6 separate regions of the Homo sapiens genome follow, and all the other regions are linked to region 6. Evidence: fine-mapped QTL for protein levels in blood plasma. A gene starts in region 6. Each other region holds a variant in brackets. All regions are shown on one strand. Distances are from middle to middle.

Region 1 (5,075 bases), 61 kb before region 6:
ACCTCTGATGCAGGCTGTGTGACATTAAGCAAATCCTAACCTCTTGGGACTGTCTTTTCATCTGCAAAATGAAGAGGTAGAATTTAGTAAGTTTGAGTCCCATCAATGCTTAAAATTCTATAATTCAGAAAGGCAGGCCATTCTACCTAGTTTCATCCCGCTTTAGCTCAGCCTTACTCAGATATGCTGGCCAGATGTTTCTAATCTTACACATAAAAGACTCTGGTATTCAGAGGCCAAAAGAAACTGGACAATTTAAGAAAAGTACTAAGCGGATGAGTTTTCCTTCTGTCTGATTCTTAAACAGCTACATGACTATTATTCAAACTTAAGAAAACAGGAAAAGAAAAGCAAGTATGCATATTTAGGTTTGAATCAACTATGTGAATATTTAGCCATGAAGAAAAGTGTGTTTTTTTGTGTGTGTTTTATTAATTATTATTTGTACAACAACCAAAAAGTAGACGTCAGCAGTTTTCAACTGTAACTATAACCTTGTACCATGTGGCTGTGGGCCGAAGTGCAGGAGGGAGTAGCTGGAAGGGAATCTGGCTAGAGCCTTCCCCTGCTCTGGAAAGCTCGTGGCTTTGTTTTTTTCACATTGCTACACCGAGACGGAGGAGAGGAGGATGTTTGGGTTTACAGGCCACCAGCCACTGTCAGCAAGTTTGTAGCCCCAGCTTCACTTCCCTGAAAGGGCGGGGGAGTTTCAGCTGCCCTGGCCTCCCTCCAGCAACTGAGCCACAGAGGATTCAAATACCCCATCAGTTGCAAGGCCCTGACTTTACCCAGCTGAAAACTGACTATCTCATCTGGGAAGGGTCAGTTAAAAAATGACAGAACTGCCTAAAGTAAACAAAGGGAACAACCACAACAGAAACTTTCTCTGCAGTGTTTCCTTATAATTACCGGCCCATCCCACCAGGGCTCTGGCTTGAGTCCCCATCCACTCTCCCTGTTGCCCCCACAGGACCTTGTTTGAGTAAGCCCTAGCTGACCTGAGGATCGCCTCCCTGTCTACATGCCTCTGTCCCGCCCTCTCCATGGAGGGGAGGGAGACTCCCGATTGCAGGAAGTTTTGAGAATGGAGTTTGAGGATTGTCAGGCAAAAAGACCCTCTAGAGCTCATTCATTAGGACCCCTAATAGATGAGTAAACAGCTTAAATGAAGTGCCTAAAGTTGAGAGCAAGTATGGGACAGAACTGGTTTTCTTCTTGCTAACCAAGTGCTCTTTCCAGTAATCATATACCGTTGTAAGGGACTAAAGATAAGGAAACTAACATTGAAGTTCTTTCTCCACCTTTTCATTCTAACCAAATCCTACTTTGTCGGACTTTTACACTTTATAGATAGGCTGGGCATGGTGGCTCACACCTGTAATCCCAGCACTTTGGGAGGTTGAGGTAAGTGGATGATGATGTCAGGAGTTCAAGACCAGCCTTGCCAATATGGTGAAACCCCATCTCTACTAAAAATAAAAACAAAAAAAAAATTAGCTGGGTGTGGTGGCGGGCGCCTGTAATCCCAGCTACTCAGGAGGCTGAGGCAGAGAATTGCTTGAACCCGGCAGGCGGATGTTGCAGTGAGCTGAGATCATGCCACTGCACTCCAGCCTGGCTGACAGAGCGAGACTCAATCTCAAAAAAACAAAAACAGAAAAACACGCTTTATAGATAAACATATTTTGAATTTAGACTTAAGGACAAGGACTAAATCTTACACTCTGTGTACCTTGTTCGTACTTCAGAGTTCATGAAGTGTGTTCATGGTCAGCAGCCAAGTAGAGTGGGTAGGACATTTGCTTCAGAGTTGAGCAAGCCTCAGAATCCCATCTCTGCACATTCTAGCTGTGTAAACTTGTAGGCAGATTACCTACTCTAAAACTTAGTTTCCACATTTGCAAAAGGGGAACAATAATAGCTCCACCTCATTATTTTGTCATGAGGATTTCATGAGATGATACATGTAATGCACATTGAAAAACTCAACAAATGTTAGAAATTGTAAATAGGTCTGGAAGGCATTTATCATTCCCATTTTACAGATGAGAAAATTAAAGCTCAGAGAGTTTAAGGGCTAGAGTCATACAATTGGTTAGTAAGATAGCTAGGATTTAGCTCAGCCTCCCAGCTCCATATCCACAGTACTTGCTGCCCCACCATTGAGTGTAGACAATTGGGGATGGCTCTAAGCTATGGGCCAAATATGTCTGTCCCTATCATCATGGAATGACATGTTATTTATTAAGCCCATATATGCTTGAGGTGCCAGGAAATGGATGCTTCTGGGGTGAGGTAGGCTCTTCATGTGCAGCCTTCATGTACAGATTCCAGCCAAGGAAATCAAGCCTGGCACTAATCCCTTGTCCAAGCCCAGAGACGCTGTGCCCACGGAGTAGGTCAGAAGTCCTTGAATATCCTCAGCTTTCCTTTCCTCTGGCAATGCTTCCTTGATGCCCTAAGAATATTTTGCTTACCCTGACATTAGAGCCCTCTTCACACTCCCAAGCTTTCTAGTATTTTGGGTGTGCATCTGATTCTCCTGTTGAAACTGGACTCCAAAGTGAAGTGCTCAAAATGGTACATAGAGGTATGAGAAAAACATATGTGAATACTTGCTTCTATTTATTTTTTAATCTAAAATATTAAGAAAATTAGGCTTTACTAATATTAAAATGTCACAGTAGAGTG[T/G]ATGGAATTTATAGCAAACATGCAATTATTAGGCATGTATGCTGGTTTTCTTTTCTTTCTTTCTTTTTTTTTTGATGGAGTGGTATGAAGAAAAGAGACTAGAGGTAACTGTTCTAGAAAGTAAGCTCCTACAGGCAGAAGATGTGTCTTTTTCTAATGTGTATTCTACCCCTCCCTCATTGGCACTAAATGACTCCTCCCTGATTAAATAAATTTGGTATCTATGTAAACTTGGTGGTCTTTCTTGCTTTTCCCCTCCTTTTGTCATCCATCTGATATAATGTCTTACTCAATATTCTCCCAAGACCTGAACAAATAATAAAGCTGTGTTAGTAAAGAGTGCAAATTGCCATAAAAAGACTGAAAAGTAAGATTCATAGTCCCCAAGGAGATGGTTAATGGTAGTCAATAAGGCATATAGTGGGCAAAAGAAAAGCTAAATGTAAAACTTCATGGAAGAACTCATGGACACAGTCAGGCAGGGAGCCCCAGCACTACAGTCTGAGAAATCAAATGTAATCTGAGCATATGTGTGTTTTCAAACTAACCACTGCCCTCTCTCTCCTCTGAAACTTGCAGAAAGCAATGCAACACAATGCAATGAGCCAGGGTCTTGGAGAAAGAAAGAAATCCCAACTCTGTCACTGTCCTGGTTGGGTGATCTTGGGCAAGGTCCATAATCACCCCCACTCCCAGGAAAAATAGTTCTTCACCTACAAATGAGGTTGAGCTAGATGATTTTGGAGGTTACTTTCATGTTTTGAAGCAGCCCATGTTTTCTTCCTGAGGCAATTTATACTTCAAGTGACACCATGAAGCTCACTGGACCAAAAATATCACCTTACCACCAAGCCTTTCATGGTTTGTGACATCCTCTCCTCAGGCACCATGTCTCCATGCGGTGCTTCCCAACCTAGCAATAACTTACTGGCATGAATCCACTTCAAGTATCAGTTATGTCCATGATGCATGTAGAGTGGGAAAGCAAGATATGAAAGGTTATATATGTGGTATGCGTATGTCTATAAATACCTACAAATATATGTGCATACACATAGAAAAAGAACTGAAAGATACTCAGCATACTTTCAACACTGATTATTCCTAGGGAGTAGGAAAGCAAGATGAAGGTATGAATTTTACCATTTACTTTAAATCCTCCTATATTTTTGTTGTTTTTTAAAAATAAATGATTTTACTATTTACAAATAAAAATTTTAAAAAATAAACATTAAAGTCCTATACAAATGTTTAATAATATTTATAATAAGTAGCACCAGTTTCTTCAAGAAGCCCTACCAGAAGCAAATCTGCATCTTGATACTGCATTAGAGCCTTGGCTGAAGTACTAATAATACCCGAACATTCTATGGAGGATTGGGCCCTGGACTGGGAGAACCTAATCACATAATCAGAAACTCTTATGAGTAATTTTGGGCAACTTGAGTTTTCCCAAACTTTACTTGAGTTTGTTTTTCTCAACTAGAAAACAATGCTTTTGAACTAAATCCTCTATCGGGAACTTTCTACTCTGAAGTCCTGTGATTCTTAACAACAGTACATGCAAAAGACACAGGAAAGTGAGTATGTCATATGGCATCCAGGATACTTTCCCCCAAAGCAAAGTGAAAACTGATGTGAAACTCCTTCTTCCTTCCTTATTTTCCTCTCTCTCTCTCTCTCCACCTCTGTTATCTAAATGCTCTATATTTGAAGCATTCATCACTTTATAGGCCTTGATGGGATACAGAGGACAACCTTTTACTTTAGAAGCTGAAAATGTCAGATACTTCTTTTCCAGCTTCCCTTACAGGTATGCATAGGCATAAGGATCTGCATTGCTTTTTGACTCAGGAGCTAGTGACCTCAAATAGCAAAGACTGCTGAATCTGTTCTGCAGCAGGGAGTGGCATTAGTTGTAATAACAACACTCATTTTTTAGATGCTACAGTGGTGGTGGTTCTGGTGGTTCTAGCAGCAGGGACCAGCATCCAGGCTTGGGGCATTCACCGAGCAGTGGTTTCCATGCAGTGGGGGCATTGATGACTTCATGATATTGTTCTGCAGTACAATTTTAGGTGTTGCTTCTGGCTATGTAGCCTCTAAACCTGGGTTTCTAGTCCTCCTGGAGAGCTTGTGAACTACCTAATATTTTTTAATAAATTCATTTACTGCTTAGATTAACTATAAATTGTTTCTGTTGCTTGCGACCGAAAACATTTACTAATGTACCTATTATTTTTTTAAAAATCATGCACTTGGAGATTATATATATATACACACACATATGTTTTTAAGGGAAAAAAACTCCCCTTCCCTTTGTTGATCCCTTATTTTCCCAGTTTCTTCTCTGGAGGTAGTAATAATGATTTGTTTCTTATGTA
Region 2 (5,075 bases), 1.3 Mb before region 6:
CGCCCAGGCTGGAGTGCAGTGGCGCGATCTCTGCTCACTGCAAGCTCCGCCTCCTGGGTTCACGCCATTCTCCTGCCTCAGCTTCCCCAGTAGCTGGGACCACAGGTGCCTGCCATCACGCCTGGCCAATTTTTTTGTATTTTTAGTAGAGGCAGGGTTTCACCATGTTAGCCAGGATGGTCTCGATCTCCGGACCTCGTGATCTGCCCACCTCAGCCTCCCAAAGTGCTAGGATTACAGGCGTGAGCCACCGTGCCCAGCCTGGTTATTTTGAATAATGCTGTTATGAACATTTGTGTATAAGTTCTTGTGTGAGCATATGTTTTCAATTCTCTTGGGTATACACCTAGATGTGGAATTGATGGGTCACAGGTTAATTCTATGCTTAAGTTTTGGAGGAATTTTCAGTTTTCCATAGCATCTGCACCATTTCACAATCTCACCAGCAATGTATGAGGGTTCTGATTCCTCCATACCCTCTCCAAAACTCTTCTTTCCTTTTCTTTCTTCCTTTTTAAAATTATAGCTATCCTAGTGGGTGTGAAGTGGTGTTTCATTGTGGTTTTGATTTGCAGTAGCCCAATAAATAACAGTGTCAAAAATGTGCTTGTTGGCCATTTGTGTATCTTCTGTGGAGAAATGCCTATTCAAGTCTTTTGCCCATTTTTAAACTGGACTGGTCATCTTTTTGTTGCTGAGTTGTAAGAATTCTTTATATATTCTGAAAATTAGACCTTGATGAGATATATGATTTGAAAATACCTTTTCTCATTCTATAGCTGTCTTTTCATTTTCTTGACAGTGTCCTCTCAAACACAGAGGTTTCTGACTTTGATGAAGTTCAATTTATTTATTTTTTCTTTTGTTGCTTGTGCTTTGGTGTCATATGTAAGAAATCATTGCCTAATCCAAGATCATGAAGACTTACACCTATATTTTCTTCTAAGAGTTTTATAGTTTTGGCTTTTGCATTTATGCCTTTGATCCATTTTGAGTTATTTTTTTTTATTATTTCCAGGTTTGTTTTTATAATTTAATCTCATAAACATATTAAACATAGTTAATTTAAAGTTTGCATCTGTTAACACCATTACTAGGATCTCCTGTGTGTCTAGCTGTTTCTCTTAGCTTTTGGTCACAGTTCTTATTTCCTCATAGGCCTAATTATTTATAACTGAGTGCCAAACATAATAATGAAAAATGATGAGAGATATATTAGGTCTAGGATGATAGTATCTTCCACAGTATCTTCCTCTAGAGAGGATTTAAATTTGTTTCTAGCCACTGGCTATCCTAAATCACCTTAATCCAATTAGAGGTTAAGATAATTTGAATCCAGGCTTCAGTCTCTATGAAACTGCCTTAGTCTATTTCTGGCTTATCTTTCCTTCTTAATTGTATCCCTTTGGTGTCTCAAAGCCTGGGGAATTTTACCAAGGCTACCCATCCTGGGCCTCTGGGCCTTAAATTTCCATATTTGTCCTGCTAGCCCTACAAGTCTATTAAACACTCTGCTCAGCTTTTTGACACTCAGTAATATTTTCTAAAATGGCAGAAGCCTCTTCAAGGAAAGCAGCTCCCATGAAGCAAAAGGATTGGTCTGAATTTTCTTCTAGAAAAGCTTCCATTTCTAGAAGCACAACTCTAAGTTTAAATTTTGAAAACAGATTATCTTATGTTTATTTGTAGCCCTCACCAGGCCCAGTGCAATTCTGGAAACCTAATAAGAATGGAAATATGCTTTGTTTGATACAATGAACAGATACTGGTGATAGTGAAGGCTTGCCACACTTACGTTTTAAGTTGTTCATTTCCCAGGACGTGGTAACCAAAGCATTCTGGTAAAACAAGAGAGAAGCAAGCCTGAGGTTTCAAGTATGGTTTCACATTACTTCCTTAGGGACTTTTCAAAAACCACACTCCATCAAACAGAAAAAGGAGGTTAAATCTACCTCAAATAAAGGACATCTCTGAAATTAGCTGAATGATTAAGAATCCAGATACTAATCTCAGAGATCCTCTGGTGACCACCAAATGGAGGAACTCTACAAGAAATTCTAAAAATTGGCACGTATAAAAGCTCTATATGGGGCCATCTGGGGTCTGAGAAAGATTTGGGCATCTAGTTCCTGAGACATATGTGAAAATGTCAGCTTCACCAGCCACCTCAAATTCTGTAACAGCACACTGGCTTTTCCTAAGTGGCACTAGCATAAAAAAA[T/C]TGAAAGAAGTAATCACTGACTTCGAATTCTCTTTCCAATAAGTGGCCATACGCTGTTCATTTCTCCTTCATGATATGTCTGGCATCTGTCTCCTTCTTTTCATTCCTCCTGTCACTGCTACCACATCTCAGGCTCTTATTACCCTGTCCTGGAATTAGAGGCCCAGTCTTTTGGAAATAGCAGCAATATTTTATCATTTCCCTATGAGTAGGTCTTCCATCGTTCCCTAGTGCTCTCAGAATGAAGTTCAAACTCCAAGTTTGGCATTCGAGGCTCTTTTCGGCTTTGTTTCAAGCTGCTCTCCTCATTAACACTCTGATTTAGCCAAACTATTTTTACTCACCACCCTCTGAAGAGTCCTCACACATTCCGGTGCTCTCCTTCATCCTGAAGCCTGTTCTTCCATATGGAATATCCTTTGACTCCAGCTCCCCCTCCATGCTCACAAACTCCGTACTTTTTCATCTTTAATTACTGAAATCATTTTCATTCACTAAAAACCCAGCTCAAATTTCACCTCTCTACATCTCTCTGCACAAAAAGCACTTAGTACTTACAGACGCTAAAGCTTAGAGAGGTCAAAAAATTTGTCCATGAGAACAACTATTAATTGGTGAAGTTGGAATTGAACTCATAAACTCCTTCAATGCTATTTTGTCTTATCTGTATTCTCCTAATCTTATACAATGCCTTGCATATAGTAAGCACCTAATAATTACAGAGCAAAGACAGGGGGAAGAAAGGCCATAAATTTTCACAGCAAGAAAGACATATACAAAAGAATATTCTTGATGTATCAGTTTTTAAATTCATCAGATATATACTGCAGAAAAGGTTGTGATTCCATCTGTTAAAAAGAGAATCATACAAGCAGAACTATAAAAATAAGCTGCTAGAATATTCTGGTTAAAGGAAAGAAATCTAAAACTCAATCAGCTTTAAATCCATTTGCTACATTGGGATTGTTGGCAGTTCAAAGGGCAAATGGCAAAAGCATGTCTCACCACGCACCCTGGCCACAGTGCAGATGGAACTCAGCCAAGGGGTTACCCAGCTAGAAAGCATTACTGCTTTCCCACTGACCAGGGCAGTCCTGTGGAAGCCTTCAACAGCCCATGTGTTCTTTGCTTTGGTCTTGGGACTTAAGGATAAATGAGATGAGGATGGTGGGTAAATGACAAGGGTAGGCACTGTCTTGGGGGCACTGCTTCTCATTCTTGCCCTACAGAGTTCAGGCAACAGTCTTCTTGGGGAGCCCCAAGGAAGGGGGTGGAAAGAGGCTGAAGACAATGGGGGCTTTCAGGAGTCCCCTTAATACCCAGAGAAGCAAGGAGCAGAGCAAAGGTTCAAACACCCAGGGGAAAGGAAATCGCTTCTTGATCCCTTCCAAACACAAGGACCATGATCAAAGAATTGCTTGCTGTAGTTATCGCAAAAAGAAAACAACAACAGGCCTTCCTGCATTCCTGCCTTTCCATGCCAGGCTGTCCTCTCCCCATGATCGTCCCCACCCCCCAAATCCTGGGGACAATTGAGCTGTGTCTCTGGCATGTGTGGAGCTGCAGGTCACGGCCATATTTAACGAGAACATTCATTCTCCACAGGCGCTACAGGGCTCCTCAAAACACCCTTTGTGTCACTGTGCCTTTCTCTCCACAGCCCTTGACACTAATTTAATCAAGATGTCCTTCTAGCTTGTAGATGGGGTGGACTCGTCAGTTCTGCATTCCTCCTGGCATTAGGGCTTTGCAGCCAAATATGTAGACTTAAAACCAGCAAGTTGAGATGGGGTCAGGGTCTCCAAGCCAGAGCATGCAGACCTTTTGGGTAAACCCTAGGCATAAAGAGTGGACTAGCTCTGTGGTATGTTTTTATAATTTTTAGTTAACCCTAAATATTCTGGAGGAGTTGAGAAATATTTTCTTAGGCAAGTATGTAGACATTTAGAAGCATTTTTTTTTAAAGCAAGAAAAAAGACAAAATTTTATCTCTATATTTTTGGACTCATCAGTACTGTTTCTAGAATGCAGAACTAGAAAAAATAGCTCCTTGTCACAACTATGCCTGTCCTTTTTCTCCTAGTCTGCACTCTCCATAATTTTGCAAAATCTGAAAACTTCAGTTCTTTCCCAAGAACCAGATTTTAATTCAGATTTGCCTTCCTTAGCTGTTTCTCTAGACCACAGTCAGTATCCAGAAGAGAATGTCAAAACTGCGGTAGGGAATTTAACCAATAAGGAAAATAAAAAAATAAACCATCTAGAGCCCTGGGTCCCCAACCAGGTTACCTGATTCCTGGTCTAATGTTCATTTCCTATGCTGTGGTAGCTCCCAAAGAGGGCATCACTGCTCATCAGTACCCCTACCCCGGCCCTGAGTTGATTTGTGGACACCAAGCCAAACATTTGAAGTGTGAGTATTATGGGCCAGAAGGAGTCAAATGCATTTGAGGAGGGCATGAGGCAGGCCCAGGGAACTCAGACAATCTATCTTAGGAGCTGATTTGAATGTGTGTTGAAATTCTTCTGTCAACCACAGATCCAACTGTCATGACCTCCCGCCTGGGACATGTAACTATTCCTTCCATCATCTGCCTGCCAGTTTAATCAGCTCACATCAGCAGCGGCAGAAAAATATTCAAAGGGCTATTGTTTCATGACCCACAAGGGCATTTTCAGAAACCCAGTAAGACTCCAGAATATAAGAGGGGTGTACCCTCTATAGATTTTGGAGCAAAAAGCTCAACTCCCTATCCTTAACTCTTTCTTCTCTCGCCTAGGTCAAGTAGGCCATTGACCTGGGGTCAGGAACAACCCTAAGTTCTTAGACCAATTTCAAAGTTATCTTTAAGTA
Region 3 (5,075 bases), 80 kb before region 6:
GTATTTAAGCGTCACCTGCCACCCCTTTACCTGAGCTACAAGTCACGCATTGCATTAGACTCCTCTGCTTTCTTCTTTCACCTCTAACTAGACTATTAACCAAAAATTTTTTAATATAACTTTCAAAAGGTATTTTATTACATCATTTCCATCCTTTATGTTTGGGTTCAAGCCCTCATTAACTTTAACATGGATTCTTGGAGTACCCTCCTTACTGATTTTGTTACACATGTCCCTCTTTTAGTCAGTACTACCATGATAATACCATGGATAATAATTTTTTCATTTTTATTTTTAGTCTTGCTCTGTCGCCGAGGCTAGAGTGCAGTGGCGCGATCTCAGCTCACTGCAACCTCCACCTCCCGGGTTCAAGTGATTCTCCTGCCTCAGCCTACTGAGTAGCTGGGATTACAGGCACCTGCCACAGCTCCTGGCTAATTTTTGTATTTTTAGTAGAGATGGAGTTTCACCGTCTTGAACTCCTGACCTCATGATCCACCCTCCTCGGCCTCCCAAAGTGCTGGGATTACAGGCATGGGCCACTGCGCCCGGCCAATAATTTTTGTGTGTGTGTGTGCTAATCATACTACATTTTCTTTAGAATAAAAGATCACATACTTGTTTGCCATTCGCAGTCTGGCCCCATTGTGCCATTCTAGACTTACCTCCTGCCACTCCCCACCAGCTTTGTTTTGTCTTAGCCACACAAAATAATCTAGCGTCTCTAACCAGTCAAACATTTTACCTTGTGCCTTGGCTCACTCTGTGCCTTTTCTCCAGAATATCTTTCTGTGTACTTTTCTCCCATCCTTTTACCTTTAAACCTGCTGCTATGGTTTGCATGTTGTTTGGCCCCTCCAAAACTCATGTTGTAGTTCAATTGCCAATGTAATAGTGTTGGGAGATGGTACTTTTAAGAGGTAATTAGGTTGCTAAGATGGATTAACATCTTTCTCTTGACACTGAGACTGGGTTCTCCTGGGAATGGTTAGTTCCCAAGAGAGTGAGTTGTTATAAAACAATGCTGCCTCTTCTATTTTGCGCTTTTTGTTTGCACAAACTCGGTCCCCTTCTGTTTCTCTACGATGTTTTGATGCAGCATGAGGCAGTCATGAGAACCCACCAGATACAGCTGCCTGATCCTGAATTTCCCAGCCAACAGAACCAAGTGCTAAATAAAACTCTTTTTAATAAGTTACCCACTCTCAGGTATTCTATTATCGCAACAGAAAACAGTTTAAGACACCTGCTAGGCTCCTAACCTTGAGGGGCTAGAAAACAAAGCCAGAGGTCCAATACCAGCCTCCTCAGAGTTAGAACACACAGCTCATGAGTGCTGAGCTCAGCCTTGGCCCCTACAGTCTTCCAGAAATGAGGCCACTTGGCTGAGCCCATTATATGCAATATTCAGACCACCAAGGGCATCAAAGAAGACAAAAGCAGAAAAACCTATCCAAGAAACAGCAACTTCAAAGGTTGAAGCAACATCAGACCACACAGGTGAGAACCAGCACAAGAACTCCGGCAACTCAAAAAGCCAGAGTGCCTTCTTACCTTCAAGCAACTGCACTATTTCCTCAACAGTGGTTCTTAACCAGGCTGACATGACAAAAATAGAGTTCTGAATATGGATAACTTTGAGGAACATAGATGCAAAAATCCTCAATGACTCAATTTGCTGGACTAGCAAACCAAGCCCAGCAGCATGTCAAAAACGAATCCACCACAATCAAGCAAGCTTTATCCCTGGGATGCAAGTTTGGTTCAACATATGCAAATCAATAAATGTGATTCATCACATAAACAACTAAAAACAAAAACCACATGGTCATCTCAATAGATGCAGAAAGGGCTTTCAATAAAATTCAACATCCCTTCATGTTAAAAACCCTCAGCAAACTAGGCATTAGAGGAACATACTTCAAAATAAGAGCCATCTATGATAAGCCCACAGCCAACATCATACTGAATGGGCCAAATGCTAGAAATACTCCCTGTGAGAACCAGAATAAGACAAAGATGCCCACTCTCACCAATCCTATTCAACATAGTACTGAGAGTCCTAGTCAGAGATAACCTGTTAGAGAAAGAAATATAAGACATCCAAGGAAAAGAGGAAGTCAAACTATCTCTGCAGACAATATGATTCTGTAGAAAACCCCATAGTCTTTGCCTAAAAGCTCTTTGATCTGATAAACAATTAGCAAAGTTTCAGGATACAAAATTAATGTACAAAAATTAGTGGCATTTCTATACACCAATAGCATTCAATCTGAGGGTCAAAATCAAGAATGCAATCTCATTCACAATAGCCATACACACACAAAAATACCTAGAAATATAGATAACAAGGGAGGTGAAAGATCTCTACAAAAAGAATTACAACACTACTCAAATCAGAGATGACACAAACAAATGGAAAAAGATTCCATGCTCATGGATAGGAAGAATTAGTGTTGTTAAAATGGCTGTACTTCCCAATGCAGTTTATGGATTCAATGCTATTCCTATGAAACTACCAGTGACATACTTCACAGAATTAGAAAAAAAAA[C/T]TTTTAAAATTCATATGGAACTTAAAAAAGAGCCTGAATAGCCATAACAATCTTAAGCAAAATGAACAAAGCTGAAGGCATTACACTACCCAATTTCAACTATAATACAAGGCTTCGGTAACCAAAACAGCAGGGTACTGGTACAAAAACAGACACATAGACCAATGGAACAGAAAAGAGCCCAGAAATAATGCTGCACACCTATGATCTGATATTTGAAAAAAGTTGACAAAAACAAGCAATGAGAAAAGGACTCCCTATTCAATAAATGGTGCTGAAATAAGTGGCTAGCCATATGCATAAGATTGAAACTGGACCCCTTCCCTTTGCCATATACAAAAATCAACTCATATGAAGTAAAGACTTAGATATAAAACCTAAAACTATAAAAGCCGTGGAAGGTAGCCTGGGAAATACTATTCTGGAATAGGACCTGGCAAAGATTTCATAACAAAGATGCCAAAAACAATTGCAACTAAAACAAAAATTGACAAATGGAATCTAATTAAAGAGCTTTAGCATAGCCAAAAACAAACAAACAAAACAGTGAACACGGTAAACAGATAACCTACAGAATGAGAGAAAATATTTGCAAACTATGCATCCTAGAGAAGTCTAATATCCAGAATTTATAAGGAACTTTATAAGCAAAAAACAACCTCATTAAAAAGTGGGCAAATGACACGAACAGACATTTTTCAAAAAGACATACATGTGGCCAAGAAGCATATGAAAAAATGTTCCACATCACTAATAATTAGAGAAATGCAAATCTAAACCACAATGAGATACCATCTCATACCAATCAGAATGGCTATTAAAAAGTCAAAAAGCAATAGATGCTGGCGTGGTTGCAGAGAAAATGGAACACTTATATACTGCTAATGGGAATGTAAATTAGTTCAGCCGTTGTGCAAAGCACTTTGGTGATTTCTCAAAGAACCTGAAACAATTACCACTCGACCCAGCAATCCCATTATTGGATATATACCTAAAGGAATATAGATTGTTCTGCCATAAAGACACATGCACGCATATGTTCATCGCAGCACTATTCACGATAGCAAAGACATGGAATCAACCTAAATGCCCATCAGTGGTAGTCTGGATAAAGAAAATGTGGTACACGTACACCGTGGAATATACACAGCCATAAAAAAATAAGATTATGTTCTTTGCAGCAACATGGATGGAGCTGGAGGCAATTATCCCAAGCTAAATTATGTAGGAACAGAAAACCAAATACCGCATATTCTCACTTATAAGCGGGAGCTAAACATTGAGTACACATGTACACAAGGGAACAACAGACACCAAGGCCTACTTAACGGTAGAGGGTGGGAGGAGGGAGAGGACAGAAAAACTACCTATTGGGTACTGTGCTTATTACCAGGTAACAAAATAATCTGTACACCAAAACCTTAAAGAAAAGTTTTTTAAAAATGTAAAATAAAGCATATAGCAAAACAAACAAGACACCTGGTAAAGTTCTGCTCTTCCTTCAAAGACCCAGCTCAAATGTCTCTTTCATAAAGCCTTTCTGACATTCTCATACCCCCCTACTCTCTGACCTGGGAGAAGCTGTGTTTTCATTCTCCCACAATAACTTGTTCATATTTCTATTATAAAACCTACAAATTTAAACTAGCTGTCAGTGCATACTTGTTTGTCTCCTTGGCTATGTGCCTTATGAGATGCCTGGGATAGAGATCAATTATTATTCAATTTGAATCCTTGGCATTGGGTACAGTGGCTGACACATTGGAGGTGTGCAACAAATATTCATGGTATAAGTTCACTGAATTACAGAGATGTATGCATAAGTTTTTTGGAACTGGGTTTCATGAATCATAGGTACACACAATTTGAATAAAAGAAGAAAACAAAAGTGGGGCAAAACGGTGTAGGTCTAGTAATGAAATGGGAAAAGAAAGGCACATTGAAAAGTCGCAACAAAAGAGAGAACCAGTACAATTATATCAACATATAGTAAACACATTGGAGAAGGGAAAAAAATACAGCAAGTGAAATTGATTCTTTGGTGGCAGAAACAATTGAAAGGTATGGAGGCAAAGAAGGAGGAGAAATTAAGGCATAGAGATAAATTAGACTTGGGGAGAAAGCACAGAAGTCAAATATAGCAACAAATCTTGGACTGGGAATGTTTCCAATTGACCATTATGCTTACGATTACTTTTATGTTGTGGAGACAATATTTAATGAGCATTTCAGATCTGTTAACTAATTTTTTGAAAAAGTGACTCCAGTTCAGTGATAAATACCTTGACCAATATGCCATATAAAGTAAGAAATATTTTACCATACCCAAGAAACTGGTTTTACCGGCTTAGTTTTGACCAACTGATGGCAATTTGTACCTGCTAAACTCCCAATTTTTTACTTGCTGGTTGTGTAGGTAGGCAGTGAGGTTTGTTGGACTGGGCATGCAGGGACAAGCAGTTAGGCCAATACATGGACTGAAGATTATATCTATTTATCTGCCTTTTGTTTAGCTATTTGCAT
Region 4 (5,075 bases), 44 kb before region 6:
CTCTTAACCACAGGGGATGTTTCACTAAAATTAAAATGTATATCTTTATTTTCTTTAATAGAAGAAGTAATCAGTTATGGCATCACAGTATATAACAGAAAATCAGCTTGGGATCACTGAGCATGGCTGTCTTTAAGAGGATGGGGCAGTGAAAGGAGTCCTGGGTGCAGTGAAAATGCCTTCCACCCTTTGGAGAGATGCTGTCATTGGAGAGAAAGAGGGATGCAGTACTGGGTCCAGGAAGGGAAGATGTTGGAATTCATCTTAGGTCTCATGTACCAAGGAAGTGACTCTGTATGAGAACAGAGGGGAAAATCAACAACTGATCAGTGATAACTATGGTATTTTGGCCTTAGGGCTATTAGGGGATGATGAGGGCAAAACTGAGAGGAATGTTAGGGAATCACTTTCTCTAAAGTATCAATATAAATTGACTCTACTTTTGGCACTCACGGAAACAGCAGAAAGAGGACATCACAACCCCTACCTGGACAACTTCTGATCCAGTTTCACCAACAACAGCATCACTCCTTTCAAAGAGCACTCTTGTCTTCCACTGTTACCTTGTATGATTATGTGATTGTTATCGTCCTTATCATTATCACTCTCAAATCACTTGAATTTCTCGCATCCCTCCACTATGTTATCTTCTAAAATAATTTTACTATAAGATGATTTAATCCCATGGAAATTTTTGAGCCCCTATTATGAAGGCTAAATCCTAGGGAATACAAAGATGAGTAAAAGAGTCATTGCTCTTAAGGAGCTCATATCACAAGATTTAGGCAGATTGAAATTGCTAACCAACATTTAACCCAGGTCCAGGTGCTCCTAATTATCTTCCCTATTGGTTTGTCTTGTCCTGTTCATTTATTTAACACATATTTATTTATTTCTTTATTTGAGACGGAGTCTCGCTCTGTCGCCCAGGCTGGAGTGCAGTGGCACGATCTCGGCTCACTGTAAGCTTTGCCTCCCCTGGGTTCACGCCATTCTCCTGCCTCAGCCTCCCCAGTAGCTGGGACTACAGGCACCCGCCACCATGCCTAGCTAATTTTTTGTATTTTTAGTAGAGATGGCGTTTCACCGTGTTAGCCAGGATGGTCTCAATCTCCTGACCTTGTGTGAAAGTGCTGGGACTATAGGAGTGAGCCACTGCGCCCGGCCTTAACACATATTTATTGAGCACCTACTATGTGCTAGGCACTGGGCTAGCCTAAGGATGCAATAGCAACTAAAATAAGCATCATATTTACTTTTAGAGAATATAACTGCAATGTGAAGAATTAGGCTCAATGATATACCTGGTTGACTACAGAAGAAATATTAAGTATTCCTGTCTCTCCTCCACAGAGTGGGGTGCACTCCAGTGCACTCCTCTTCCAACCATTATGTAGTGAAGTTATAGCTGAGACATATTTAGTTCTTATGTGAGTCCAACTTGAGAGGCACCTGACAATAAGAGGACAAATCTCCACTGTAATGCTGAATAGCTGGTAGTCTCATGTCCAGTATTCCTGTGCAAACACCCTTGCAGGAACCAAGTACCCTTCATATTATGCCCTGATTCTATATGGGTTAGACATACACATCAAATAATTTTGGTTTGTCAATAAACAATCTAAATAATAGAAGGTAAAGTCAATTATGTAAAGTTTCCAAAGAAGGATAGGGGAAGAGTTTCCAAGAAAAGTTTTTTCTTATTGGAAGAAGCATATCAGATGAAGGCAAGCATTACTTTATGTATATATGTATGTATGTATGTATTTTAAGGCAGGGTCTGGCACTGTCACTCAGGCCAGAGTGCAGTGGCATGGATCTTGGCTCACTGCAACCTCAGTCTGCTGGGCTCAAGTGATGCTCCCACCTCAGCCTCCCAAGTAGCTGGGACTACAAGCATGCACCACCACATCCAGCTAATTTCTGTATTTTTTTGTAGAGATGGGGTCTTACCATGTTGCCCAGGATGGTCTCGAACTCTTGGCTCAAGTGATCCTCCTGCCTCGGCCTCACATAGTTCTGGGATTACAGATGTGAGCCACCACACCTGGTGGCTCACTAATTTTCACTAATGGCAATAAAACCACTACTTACAATATCAGAGTGTACAACTAATGTATTAGCTGACTAAATAAGGGATGTAGTAAATTTAGTCAGGGCTTCTGCCTATATAGAGTAAGACCCCAAGGCATGGAAGAATGACTCACTGTAATAAACTAAGCCAACTAAATATTGATGAGTGGTGCTCACATAACAGCATAATATTAGAACAGAAAAGAAAATTATAGATTGTACTGGATAACTCATTCAAGCATAAAATTTGGAATCTGATGGTCCTAGGTTCAAAGTCCAACTCAGCTTCCTCTTTGCCACCTCTGTGGCCTTGGGCAACTTGAGCATTTTTAAATTTGAATACTACAGATCTATATTCCTAGCTAGTAGAGTTCTTTCTCTTATGGATTAAATAAAGTAATACAATTGATGTCACATGGTGCACAGTAAGCACTTCATAAATACT[C/T]TAGTCTTCTTTTCATTGTACAGAAAAGGAACAAAAGCCTGGAGGACTGATCTAACTTTCCTGAAGGCCCACAGTTAACCAATGTCAGATCCAGATGAGAGCCCCTGGCTTCCTGACTCCTGGTCCAGCTGGCTGTCTATGATTTCCAAAACAGGGCTGTGCCAAAGACAACTGAAAATACATTTACCTCTGTTTTTTTAAAGCTGAAGAGAATGAAGTAAAAAGAGAGGAGGAGGCTGATGTGGGGTGAGAGGTATAAGAAGCAGATTTACTTTCCTGGTTTTGCATTACCTTCCTGAGTTTACACTGCCTGAGCACACACCCACTAACGGTGGGGGGAAGTGGCAGAGCGTAGCCAACATGGGATTAAAAATTGTGTTACATCAACCCACAAAGTAAATAATCTACCTGCCCACAATTGAAGGGGGTGTAACAGGGTATTGTGTTTTTTCTCACACATAGTTCTTTGGGTCTGCTAGGGTCATTCCAGATCTAATTTTCCAGAAGATCCTATATACGCCTTTCCATTGGAGTTTTGAGCTTGCTAATGTGTGGATTTGGCAGACAAATGCAAATTAAAGAAGATATATATGAAAAATCACTTGTAGCCTAAACATGATTTCTGTGTGGGACTGGTGCTCCACATGGATAAAAAAGCCATGGGCCAGAGACAGGATGCTTGACTCCTTCCCTGCACTGCTGTTAACACTCGGGGGGACCCAAGAAAGGAGATTAACTTCTCTGGGCATCTATTTTGTCACCTATAAAATACCATCAAGTAGTCATTTGAATGCAAGACGTTTGTCACATTTTATTTTTCTGTATCCTTTTAAGAGCTTCATGGGGGCAGATTGTACTCCCACATTACAAGTAAAGAAATAAGGGCTTAGAGATATTGTGACTTGTCCAACGTCATTTAGCTGGTAAGTGGTAGAATCTGACAGAACCTGGATTTGAACCCAGAATCTGCTTTCAACCTCCAAGCTACACTACTTAATATTGTGAGGGAGGGAAAGGATGTTAACCTTCAAAGTACTTTACATCAGTTTAAACAAATGTTCAATACAATCATTTATTAGGGGTATAATTCCTAGGAGGTGCCTGTACTTAAGTCATTTTCAGCTCATTGACTTTCTCATTCATTGCCTCTCATCTGACCTGTGAGCCTCAAACCACAGTTATCCTATTTCATTTCCTTTGTTTTTGGTGTCAGTACTCCTCCCACATTGGCTGATTTCAGGGGGAGCCGGTACCACTTCTCTTCAAGTAGGGGAGTGTAAGTGTAGGAAGCCACTCATACACACACACATAAATATGCGCGTGCACGCACACACACACACACATTCATATTAGTTTGTGATACACATACGTGGTTTCAGAAATTGACAATTTAAGAATATGTCATTATTATGACAGTGCATATATCATGTATAAATAATTCCCCAGAATTGGGGTTGGGTGAAAAAAACGCTGTGATAAGGTGATAGAAAGTGAAGAGACATGTACTAAGGAGAATACTAAGAGACTTAGAACCTTCTGGCTTCAGCCCCCACCTTGAATTTTAAAAGAAGTTCATGAATTTTTTCCTGCTCATTCGGTCTCCTGAAAGATCCTTACCCTTGGTAGGAAATGAGCTTGATACAACCCAGTGTTGTATCAACTGATACTGAGCTTTCACTCTGTTATCTGTATCTGCATTCCAGGTAGTGGTGGTCATCAGACTGTAAACTTTGGAGGCTCAGGGTCACATCTGTGGAATTCTCTCTTCTGTGGTCCGGCATGGCATACAATTAGCAAATTGGTGATGACAACGTTTTTCATTCCTTCTATTGCTTTTTATTTGGTTTGTTCAGGAGACAGACACAAAATATTTTGAGACTCATTTAATTATAGCCCACAACTGTCATGGCATTCAACAAATGCAGTTATTCATTAAATATGTACTTGTTGAACATCATGGTACTATTATTGAACATCACAATAATATTTCATTTTTTGCATTAACCCTTAATGGTTACAAAGTGCATCTATAATTAGTGTCACACCTAGGCTTCCTAAGAATCCTTTGAGAAGGGAGAAAGGGATAAAAGCATTACCTACCTTATGAGGATTTGTGAGAATCATACAATAAAAGACAAAAGTGCTTAGCACTGGAAGCTGATGCAGTGTAAACAATCATGAAATGTTACTACTAGCACAGTTATTAGCCCATATTACTGATGATATACCTCACTTCCTCAAGTTTGCACAGTGAAGTAGTAGAATTCAGCTAAGAATCTGTTTCCAGACCCCAAATCTGTCTTAGGAAACTATCAGTTGAGATCGCAATTATGGAAGGCAAAAAAACAGAGCCTTAAAGGGAGAGCAAACATGACAGGTTTTATGGTGGGTGAGTAGGCAGAAGTGTTTAGGGACCTTATGTGCATTGTCAAGTGCTCAGGGGAGAGGGTGAGGCCCAGGCTATGTACCACAGGCAGCTGTACAATTCATTTTTGGTTCCTCAAATGTTCTATCTTCCCTCAGCACCTTCACATAGAATGTGTTCCTTCTCCCCTGT
Region 5 (5,075 bases), 170 kb after region 6:
GATAATAGTAGTACCTATAACCTAGGGTCATGGTGAAGATTTAATGGGCTGATTTATGCAGAGCATAGCGGGGTGTGTAGCATGAAACGAGCCAGTCTTCCATAAGTACTGCTTATTATCAGCCCTAAGGCCATGCTTTCTGCCAACAGACAACATTGCTTGGTACAAGAGCTTTTAACTAGTCTCCCTGACTCAAGCCTGTTCCTTTTTAACCTTTCCTTGTAATTCAGCCAGATGGAATCTCCCAGGAACAAAACTGAAAATATTCCTCTCTTATCAGAATCCCTCAGAATCACCTCATGACCTTCCGATTTGCCCTTTTACGGACGATAAACCCTTCCATTTTCTGAGCCAGAGGCTTCTTCCTTTGTGGAGTCAGCCTCATCGCTCGACTAGGAACATAACCAGCTATCTACCTTTCTCAGAAAGCACTTGGGTTTGCTCTTATAACAGGCACTTTTTCTAGGTTCTTCCCACCATTGCACATGGACACACAAAAATTACACTGACCCCTGGCACCCCAAAGACAAACAGCAGAAAGCACTCCCAGGCAAAATGAGCTCAGGACCTTTCTGTTGCCTGGGCCCACAACTAAGGTTCAGGGCCTTCTCTAAAAAGAAGCCGCAGCCGAAGACAGAGGAACTGCCCAGAGTGGGGCTGGGGGTGTGGAGTCTACGCTGATACTTTCAGGCTGTTTCCACTCTTGCTGGTTCTGATGCTCCTTTCTTTTGCCACAAGCAACCCTAGTGGAAAACTGGGAAATGTCCAACAATGAAGTTAGGACAGTGGCCCATAAAACATCGGATTCCAACCTGTGTCCTAAGGTGTAAAGACACAGAGTAAAGGCAAAGATACAGTGAGCCTTTAACACGTTCTCCTTTGTTCTTCCTATTTCTCTATTCCTTCTCCATTTCCGATGGTGTTCTCTACCCTCTCTCCAACCCACGTGCCAACAGCCCCTCTTTTCTCTTTTATTCTCGCCCACGTTTCCCTCCTTTCTTCCACCTGCGCCCAACGGTACGGCCCGGAAAACGAACTGGATGCGTTGGACAGGTCACGCGCGCATTGCGGACGCCAGCTAGACCGAGCCCTGGGAGGCTACGGGCTCCCCCGGAAACCCTGCCAGGGGAGCCGGGTTTTGAGCTCAGGCGCCTCTAGCGGCGGCCCCCAGAAATCTGACTCGCGAGGCCAGAGTTGCAGGGACTGAATAGCAAACTGAGGCTGAGTAGGGAACAGACCATGAGGTCAGTGCAGATCTTCCTCTCCCAATGCCGTTTGCTCCTTCTACTAGTTCCGACAATGCTCCTTAAGTCTCTTGGCGAAGATGTAATTTTTCACCCTGAAGGGGAGTTTGACTCGTATGAAGTCACCATTCCTGAGAAGCTGAGCTTCCGGGGAGAGGTGCAGGGTGTGGTCAGTCCCGTGTCCTACCTACTGCAGTTAAAAGGCAAGAAGCACGTCCTCCATTTGTGGCCCAAGAGACTTCTGTTGCCCCGACATCTGCGCGTTTTCTCCTTCACAGAACATGGGGAACTGCTGGAGGATCATCCTTACATACCAAAGGACTGCAACTACATGGGCTCCGTGAAAGAGTCTCTGGACTCTAAAGCTACTATAAGCACATGCATGGGGGGTCTCCGAGGTGTATTTAACATTGATGCCAAACATTACCAAATTGAGCCCCTCAAGGCCTCTCCCAGTTTTGAACATGTCGTCTATCTCCTGAAGAAAGAGCAGTTTGGGAATCAGGTTTGTGGCTTAAGTGATGATGAAATAGAATGGCAGATGGCCCCTTATGAGAATAAGGCGAGGCTAAGGGACTTTCCTGGATCCTATAAACACCCAAAGTACTTGGAATTGATCCTACTCTTTGATCAAAGTAGGTATAGGTTTGTGAACAACAATCTTTCTCAAGTCATACATGATGCCATTCTTTTGACTGGGATTATGGACACCTACTTTCAAGATGTTCGTATGAGGATACACTTAAAGGCTCTTGAAGTATGGACAGATTTTAACAAAATACGCGTTGGATATCCAGAGTTAGCTGAAGTTTTAGGCAGATTTGTAATATATAAAAAAAGTGTATTAAATGCTCGCCTGTCATCAGATTGGGCACATTTATATCTTCAAAGAAAATATAATGATGCTCTTGCATGGTCGTTTGGAAAAGTGTGTTCTCTAGAATATGCTGGATCAGTGAGTACTTTACTAGATACAAATATCCTTGCCCCTGCTACCTGGTCTGCTCATGAGCTGGGTCATGCTGTAGGAATGTCACATGATGAACAATACTGCCAATGTAGGGGTAGGCTTAATTGCATCATGGGCTCAGGACGCACTGGGTTTAGCAATTGCAGTTATATCTCTTTTTTTAAACATATCTCTTCGGGAGCAACATGTCTAAATAATATCCCAGGACTAGGTTATGTGCTTAAGAGATGTGGAAACAAAATTGTGGAGGACAATGAGGAATGTGA[C/T]TGTGGTTCCACAGAGGAGTGTCAGAAAGATCGGTGTTGCCAATCAAATTGTAAGTTGCAACCAGGTGCCAACTGTAGCATTGGACTTTGCTGTCATGATTGTCGGTTTCGTCCATCTGGATACGTGTGTAGGCAGGAAGGAAATGAATGTGACCTTGCAGAGTACTGCGACGGGAATTCAAGTTCCTGCCCAAATGACGTTTATAAGCAGGATGGAACCCCTTGCAAGTATGAAGGCCGTTGTTTCAGGAAGGGGTGCAGATCCAGATATATGCAGTGCCAAAGCATTTTTGGACCTGATGCCATGGAGGCTCCTAGTGAGTGCTATGATGCAGTTAACTTAATAGGTGATCAATTTGGTAACTGTGAGATTACAGGAATTCGAAATTTTAAAAAGTGTGAAAGTGCAAATTCAATATGTGGCAGGCTACAGTGTATAAATGTTGAAACCATCCCTGATTTGCCAGAGCATACGACTATAATTTCTACTCATTTACAGGCAGAAAATCTCATGTGCTGGGGCACAGGCTATCATCTATCCATGAAACCCATGGGAATACCTGACCTAGGTATGATAAATGATGGCACCTCCTGTGGAGAAGGCCGGGTATGTTTTAAAAAAAATTGCGTCAATAGCTCAGTCCTGCAGTTTGACTGTTTGCCTGAGAAATGCAATACCCGGGGTGTTTGCAACAACAGAAAAAACTGCCACTGCATGTATGGGTGGGCACCTCCATTCTGTGAGGAAGTGGGGTATGGAGGAAGCATTGACAGTGGGCCTCCAGGACTGCTCAGAGGGGCGATTCCCTCGTCAATTTGGGTTGTGTCCATCATAATGTTTCGCCTTATTTTATTAATCCTTTCAGTGGTTTTTGTGTTTTTCCGGCAAGTGATAGGAAACCACTTAAAACCCAAACAGGAAAAAATGCCACTATCCAAAGCAAAAACTGAACAGGAAGAATCTAAAACAAAAACTGTACAGGAAGAATCTAAAACAAAAACTGGACAGGAAGAATCTGAAGCAAAAACTGGACAGGAAGAATCTAAAGCAAAAACTGGACAGGAAGAATCTAAAGCAAACATTGAAAGTAAACGACCCAAAGCAAAGAGTGTCAAGAAACAAAAAAAGTAACCGGGCAATCCATACTCATTCAGTAACACAGGCTCATTTATTTAACCAGCTAATCATTTATCCAAAGGCTTTCCATTCTTCTCCCAATATTTTTTTACTTTAATTTTTCCCACAAGTTTTGATCAGCAAATAAACAGCATTCTTGTTTTGGAAACAAACCAGTGCATTCTACTTCTCGAGTGTTCACTTGCCCCTCAGTTTGTGACCAAGTTGTGGGTATTCTGAGAATCATGCTCTAATGGCTTTTCCATACACTAAAGCTCTGAAAGTAGTGAGTTTCCTAGAATTACCATGCTATTCAAGGTATAGTCTTGTTTCTCAGAATCCCAGGGAACAAAGCAATTGTCTGCCTCTCCCTCTGCCTCCCTCAACTTGATCCATGTGAACATCCGCACCTGCACCCATGCTGATCAATAAATGCCGACAACACATTTTATGAATAGAAAATGATTCTATAAGCATTTTCAGTATTTGGGGTGATCTCAGGTGGGTTAATGACGCTGAGCTGTCCTAACTCTTGCATTGCACCACAGTGCAATGATGACAAGATGATGCCAGGCCCTGGCAGTGTCCTGGGGCAAGGCTGTTAAGAAAATTTTGTGTTTGCAGTGTCTGCTTGCAGAGGCAGAGCTTTTGTGAGTGCGTGTGTGCTGAATGACACCTGGCCCTATGTTTGCCACTCTCCTAAGTAGCACAGAGGAGGAGTGAGGAACGCCTTTCAAGGACCCCCGTGTCTCTGCCTCCACATCTTCCTTCCCGTTTGCACAGTGATTTTGGTGGGAGGAGAGGACTGAGGGGTGCCTTGGCAGGAGTCAGTATCCACTTCTTATATCCAAGGGGGGATTGTCCCTCTCAGATTTGTGTCAGGCTAAGTTTTTTGGTCTTGCTCTAGGCTGGGTCTTCCTGCTTTTCTCTCATCTTACCTCAGTGCTCCTCTCCCTCCTCAGGCAACACCGCAGGCCTGCAGTGCCCCATCCCAATCTCCTGTTTCTTTTTTTTTTTTTTTTTTTTTTTTTTTTGAGACTGAGTCTTGCTCTCTCGCCCAGGCTGGAGTGCCGTGGTGCGATCTCAGCTCACTACAAACTCTGCCTCCAGGGTTCACGTCATTCTCCTGCCTCAGCCTCCTGAGTAGCTGGGACTACAGGTGCCCGCCACCACGCGCAGCTAAGTTTTTGTATTTTTAGTATAGACGGGGTTTCACCGTGTTAGCCAGGATGGTCTCGATCTCCCAACCTCATGATCCACCTGCCTTGGCCTCCCAAAGTGCTGGGATTACAGGCGTGAGCCACCACGCTCGGCCTCCTGTTTCTTAGTCACACTTCTAATGAAAGATGAACTTGCGGCAGTCTCACAGGGAAGGTTGGTCCCCAGACTGTTTTTTCTCAGCATATGTGCCAGCAGCCTTCTAAGAGCTACATGTGTATTATTAACATGCATACTGCTGACAACAGCTCCATGAGATA
Region 6 (5,075 bases):
GAATTATCTTTAGTGAGTAAAGAGGAAGATCGAACTGGTAACACTGTGGGTAAACAACTGAAAAATAATGTTATCTTTCTCTGAACATACTTGCACAAGACAAATTCCAAAAATATTTTGACTACATTATTTTTGAAAAGGGTTTCCAGTATTTCAATGTGACTACTTTCACTAATGGTACTTGCTTACCTAAAGTGCTTGTTAACATGCAGTTTTGGAACTTCATAGGTCTATGCCCATACTGACTTGTACTTGCTTAGTGTTGTTTCACATTCTAGTTCAACATCTATTATGTGATAGACACTGGGGATTAATAGGCTGTGGTCTTTGCCCATGAGGACCTCAAAACTTAGTTGAGAACACAGAAATACAAAGAGTCCTGTGTGAAAAATAAGTATCGGTGTTAAGATAAAGAAGCGGCAGTGGAAGACAGTGGAGGGACTGTCTGTTAGGGGGAGGAATTTATTGCGGTGTCGGCAAAGCCTTCTTTGGACTGAAGGATGAATTATGATTAGAAGTTCATTAAGAGGAGGAGGGAAGGGGACTACAGGAGTCATTCCAAGCCAAAGGAACAAAAGATACAGGGACAGAAACAGCAAGATATGTTTGGGGGAATCTCAAGTTAGTCAATACTGTTATTGTGTGAAGTTCACAACAGGGGCAGGGAGGACAGGAGATGGGGCCCAATGACGAAAAGGCCTTGTATGTACCATGTTTAGAAGTTTGAATTTTATCCTATAGGAGTCAGGGAGAGGTTCTATGGGTAGGATTTCCCATCCCAACAGGATTGTAAACTCCCACATCCAATTAGTCACACCTCCATTTTTTTTTTCTGTTTCTTTAACATTGTCTCGGATTCATTCCTTCTGAAATCTACCTTATTAGTTCAGGTCTTCTTAAATTTGTGCCTGGACTGTTCACCAACTCTTGACTGGTCCTGGGGCTCCAGTTCACCTCTTGCTCCCCCAACAATCAATTTTCTACAGAATTATCAGAGCAATCTTCCTTTCCATCAATCTCAACTCTGTTCAAAAACTTTCAATAGTTTTATGTGACCTAAGAGGTAGCTGCCTCCCCACCCTTTCAGCTTGCCATTCAAGGCTGCATAATTTGGTCCCAACCCCCTTTCCGTCCTTGACTCCTCTCACTGCTAACAGAGACAGAACTCATTTACTTACTCTTTTGACTGTACCTTTGCTTTCACGAGGGCTCTTTCCTGGAATGATATGTCCATACAACTATTGTTGCTGTTCTTACTTTTAGCTCTTTTCTTAGAAGCCCACTTGTACCCAGGTTTGATCACACCCCCTACTCTCCTGCCCTGGAAGTAACTACTATTCTGGTTATAGTCTCTTAATATCTATATCTATATATATGCATCCACAGATAATGTGTAGTATTGTCTTGAAAAAAATATACATAAATGGTATACTTTGTCTCCCTCTGTGATTAGTTTTTTCACTATCATTTAGTTTTTAAGATTTATCCCTATTGACATAAATAGCTATAGTCTTTTCAATTACTGTGTTGCATTTCATTTTATAAATATACCATACATTATTCATCCATTCCTCTAAGGGTGGGCATTTATGTTGTTTTCAAGGTTTTGCTATTACAGTGTTACAACGAATATCCTTAGCTTAGCTGGTCTCCTTGTCTTATACAAATTTTACTGACCTTTCAAGATCCTGCTTTCATCCCAGCTCCTCTGGGAAAGCCTTCCCTGAATCCCCCAGCCCACAGCGGCAAAGTCTTGGTACTCAAAGTTGCTTGTGCATCTTTGGTATCATCCCACTGCCAAGCACACAGCTACGCAAAGTAAGGCACTTAAGAAATATTCGCTACACGGATGAACAAATGAATGAATGAATGGGGCAGCACCACTCCGTGATGGCTCTATTCCTTTTTAATGGACTTTGGCGCCTTGGCCCACTTTCCTTCTTTGACAGCACTGGTCCTACTCCAGAGCATTCCTCTAGCTAGCAAAGCAGTGTGTGGATGTGTGGGTGTAGGTGGCGATACAGACCTCACTGGATGAGGACCGCCTCTCCCTGCAAGTTCACGATCCCGGCAAACTCCAGTGCTTGAAGTTCAGAGTCCTACCCCACCCCCCTCACCCCCACGCCCCTTCTGCACTGGTCAAGCCAGCGAGCCGCTGCAGCCCTGATCGAGTTAAGGCGCGGCGGCCCCCGGGGCCGCTGGAGAAGGATGCGGACGGGGCCAGTGACTCGTAGTAGATCCCTCCGCGCGGAGCTCGGGCCGGCGCTTCTTCCTGCGGGAAACCCCTGGGTGCCCAAGGCGGCGGGGCCGAGGCCGCGGCGACAGTGGGGCGGGGCTTGCGGTGGGAGGAGGCGGCTGAGGCGGAAGGACACACGAGGCTGCTTCGTTGCACACCCGAGAAAGTTTCAGCCAAACTTCGGGCGGCGGCTGAGGCGGCGGCCGAGGAGCGGCGGACTCGGGGCGCGGGGAGTCGAGGCATTTGCGCCTGGGCTTCGGAGCGTAGCGCCAGGGCCTGAGCCTTTGAAGCAGGAGGAGGGGAGGAGAGAGTGGGGCTCCTCTATCGGGACCCCCTCCCCATGTGGATCTGCCCAGGCGGCGGCGGCGGCGGCGGAGGAGGAGGCGACCGAGAAGATGCCCGCCCTGCGCCCCGCTCTGCTGTGGGCGCTGCTGGCGCTCTGGCTGTGCTGCGCGGCCCCCGCGCATGGTGAGTATCGGGCTGAGGGGCGCTGTCCGCGGCGCCCGGGGCTGCCACCTGGGGCGACCCTTCTCCCCCTCGGTCCTTCTCTGTGTGGGAAGGCCAGGCTCGGCCGCCGGCGCGGAGCGAGGCCACTCGCTGGGTTCCCAAGAGTTTGGACATCGCCGGGGGCCCCTCCCGTGGTGCCCCGCCAACCGCCGGGGTTCCCCGCCGCCTCTGCTCCCCGCGGCCCGGGACCCCTTACACGCCTCCTCGGCAGGAGGGAGGCCGGCAGCAAGTCTCAGAAACTCCTTTTTCGTAGTGCCAGGGTGCAGGGAGGTGGGCAGTTTTGCCCTTCAGGTTCCGCGTTTCTTGGGGTCGAGCGAGAGCCGACGGCGGGCCTCGGAGGGGCTGAGCGAAGGAATGCCAGATTCTGGCGTGGAGAGCGGGGGCAGGGCCGCCAAGCCAAACGGCCTGCACCGTCGCAGCCAGCCTCGCCTTTGCCAGGGGGCGGCACATGGGCCGGGTGTGTGGGCTTGGTTTGGATGGGGACGGGGTTTTGCGGCGCGCCTGAGTTTTGACACTCCAACCCCACCGAAAGTCCGGGGGAGCCGTGTGTGCTGCTCGCGTCTTTGAAAGGTGGAGGCAGGAGAAGTAGGGCAACTGGTGTGGCTGCATGCTGAGGCACATGATTTAAAAATCTCAACTGCTGTTATTCTTTCCGAGGCGCGGAGCTCTGCTGCTGTTTCAGGCTGTGTCCAGACCCAGGAATGTGGTGTGACGATCACCAATTCCTCCAACCTGGCAGCAGCATTTGCTGCTCCTTTGGCATGGCTGGGGGTGGGGCACGGGCGGGTGAGAAAAAGTGGATACGTTAATTCAAAGGGCTTCCTTAGAAAGCTTCTTTATGGTTGGATGTTTCTAACACGGTTGGACCAAGGAAAGGGAATCAAATCATATCTTCCCCATCCCACCCACACTTTTAGATTCTACATTTCTTCAGACCCTTTAGTGGAAATAACTTGGGCTTTGGAGCCCTGCTCTGTAATCCTGGATTCAAATCCAGCTCTGCTATATGAACTCACCAATAAAATGGGAAAGAAATTATCCAGCTAATAGGATTAATTAAAATAATGTATATTAAACGGATGACACTCCAAAGGTGTTCAGAAAGTCCTTTCAGGGCCGAGGCTGTGTTTTACTGCTTCTGAGATTGATGCTCCCAGTGGGATGCTGTCTTGTGCATATTTGTTGAACGGAAAGCAGCCCCTTCTTTTTCTGAGCCTAATCTGAATAAAGATTTTTACCTTCACCAAAAAACTAGTACATGAACTACATCTGTTTTCAAAGAAAAGGTTAGGAAGATGATGAGCTTCAGAAAAATATGGTCTTTGTTCATTGTTAACAGTCAGTCGACATGTCAATCGCAGATGTTTAAAAAGAGAACAAGGTTATTTATCACCCGAAAATAGTACTGGGTTGTTCAGCACCAACTAGATACTTCTTGGAAAGTTCAAATTTCGTACACGTCTAGGTCACTAAGAATTTCAGAAGTGGACCAGGAGGCTTTGTAGTGATGAAGCAGAGCCGTTGTTTCTGAAGCATTTAATAAAGAGCATATATGATGGTGTTTTTGCTTTTCCTTTTTCTTTGAGTGAAAGCTTTAAGTGTAGCTTTAGGATAGAGAGGAGTATGATCAATGAGACAGTCTGAGGGTAATAATCCTTGGTCTATCATTAACTTGTTTTGGTAAATAACTTAATCTTCATGATATGTAGTCTCCTCACCTATGAAGCAGGACTAAAGGAATAACCTGCTTTAGAGAATTGTAGGGAATAATAAATATAATTGTAAAGTGATTTGAAAAATTAAGTATTAAATAATATGATATCAGAAATGGGATTACTCTGACACATAGGGCTTCTTTTATTATAGGATCTCAGTGCATAAAACTATGCCCTCCACCTCTGCTCTGCTGAGGTGCTGCGATTATTAGCTAGCTTTTAGGTAGTCAAGTTGAGTGTTAGTCAAGTTGACTCAAAGGATAGGATTTAGATATTTTGATTTTTAGACAGGTGTTCTTTAGATGCTAAACTAATGCAGTAGAAGAGATTTAGAAGCCGTTTCTCGGTACAAATCTTAAATCTTCTTAGAGTCTACAGTGAAGGCTTCTTGAATCCTCTTAATTTATTATTGTGTTTTGCTAAGGTACCAGTTGCAGCACACCCTTCTAAACTTTTGAGTGTTCCTGTGTTTGGCTTGTGGCCAATTGTTAATTTAAACATCACGGAGTTTCTAAGGCAAGGAGATGTTAGCAGTATGTCTGATTGTCTAAACAGCTATCCAGGACCATCCTCTTGCTCCTTGTTTTCTTTTGCTTTGCAATGGGAAGTGACTCCCT

Which allele goes with the higher level. Positions count from the first base shown, and alleles are read on the strand shown. Strength reflects both the effect of a copy and how common the allele is.
In carriers of allele T in region 1, the plasma level of the protein whose gene starts at base 2,376 in region 6 tends to be higher than with G alone (strong association).
In carriers of allele T in region 2, the plasma level of the protein whose gene starts at base 2,376 in region 6 tends to be higher than with C alone (weak association).
With allele C in place of T in region 3, the plasma level of the protein whose gene starts at base 2,376 in region 6 is higher (moderate association).
For the plasma level of the protein whose gene starts at base 2,376 in region 6, allele T in region 4 goes with a lower level than allele C (strong association).
In carriers of allele T in region 5, the plasma level of the protein whose gene starts at base 2,376 in region 6 tends to be lower than with C alone (moderate association).

What was found. PIP is the posterior inclusion probability: the model's chance that the variant is causal. The UK Biobank Pharma Proteomics Project read protein levels with antibody pairs (Olink). The fine-mapping took linkage between variants from a reference panel, not from the people measured, so its PIPs are less certain.
Region 1: its variant is fine-mapped to the plasma level of the NOTCH2 protein (UK Biobank, PIP above 0.99).
Region 2: its variant is fine-mapped to the plasma level of the NOTCH2 protein (UK Biobank, PIP 0.98).
Region 3: its variant is fine-mapped to the plasma level of the NOTCH2 protein (UK Biobank, PIP 0.93).
Region 4: its variant is fine-mapped to the plasma level of the NOTCH2 protein (UK Biobank, PIP above 0.99).
Region 5: its variant is fine-mapped to the plasma level of the NOTCH2 protein (UK Biobank, PIP above 0.99).

Annotation. Positions count from the first base shown.
Region 1 is chr1:120,127,698-120,132,772 of GRCh38, reverse strand. No RefSeq gene overlaps it. Among named protein-coding and RNA genes, the nearest start is that of SEC22B, 46 kb to the left of the region's middle. The variant T/G (reference allele first, on the strand shown) is at 2,692.
Region 2 is chr1:121,346,515-121,351,589 of GRCh38, reverse strand. The region is part of intron 4 of SRGAP2C (SLIT-ROBO Rho GTPase activating protein 2C); the gene reads right to left. LOC107985193 (a long non-coding RNA gene) reads right to left here and starts at 2,652. Exons shown (of 2, transcript XR_001738200.3): 1 at 2,566-2,652; 2 at 1,790-1,838. The variant T/C (reference allele first, on the strand shown) is at 2,222.
Region 3 is chr1:120,146,880-120,151,954 of GRCh38, reverse strand. It overlaps SEC22B (SEC22 homolog B, vesicle trafficking protein), which reads left to right. Exons shown (of 5, transcript NM_004892.6): 5 at 1-1,057. Among named protein-coding and RNA genes, the nearest start is that of SEC22B, 27 kb to the left of the region's middle. The variant C/T (reference allele first, on the strand shown) is at 2,553.
Region 4 is chr1:120,111,103-120,116,177 of GRCh38, reverse strand. No RefSeq gene overlaps it. Among named protein-coding and RNA genes, the nearest start is that of NOTCH2, 44 kb to the right of the region's middle. The variant C/T (reference allele first, on the strand shown) is at 2,519.
Region 5 is chr1:119,892,501-119,897,575 of GRCh38, reverse strand. It overlaps ADAM30 (ADAM metallopeptidase domain 30), which reads left to right and starts at 1,061. Exons shown (of 1, transcript NM_021794.4): 1 at 1,061-4,043. The coding sequence starts at 1,240. The coding sequence ends at 3,612. The variant C/T (reference allele first, on the strand shown) is at 2,481.
Region 6 is chr1:120,066,963-120,072,037 of GRCh38, reverse strand. NOTCH2 (notch receptor 2) reads left to right here and starts at 2,376. Exons shown (of 34, transcript NM_024408.4): 1 at 2,376-2,704. The coding sequence starts at 2,632. It overlaps LOC101929178 (a long non-coding RNA gene), which reads right to left and starts at 2,210. Exons shown (of 2, transcript XR_254374.4): 1 at 2,027-2,210.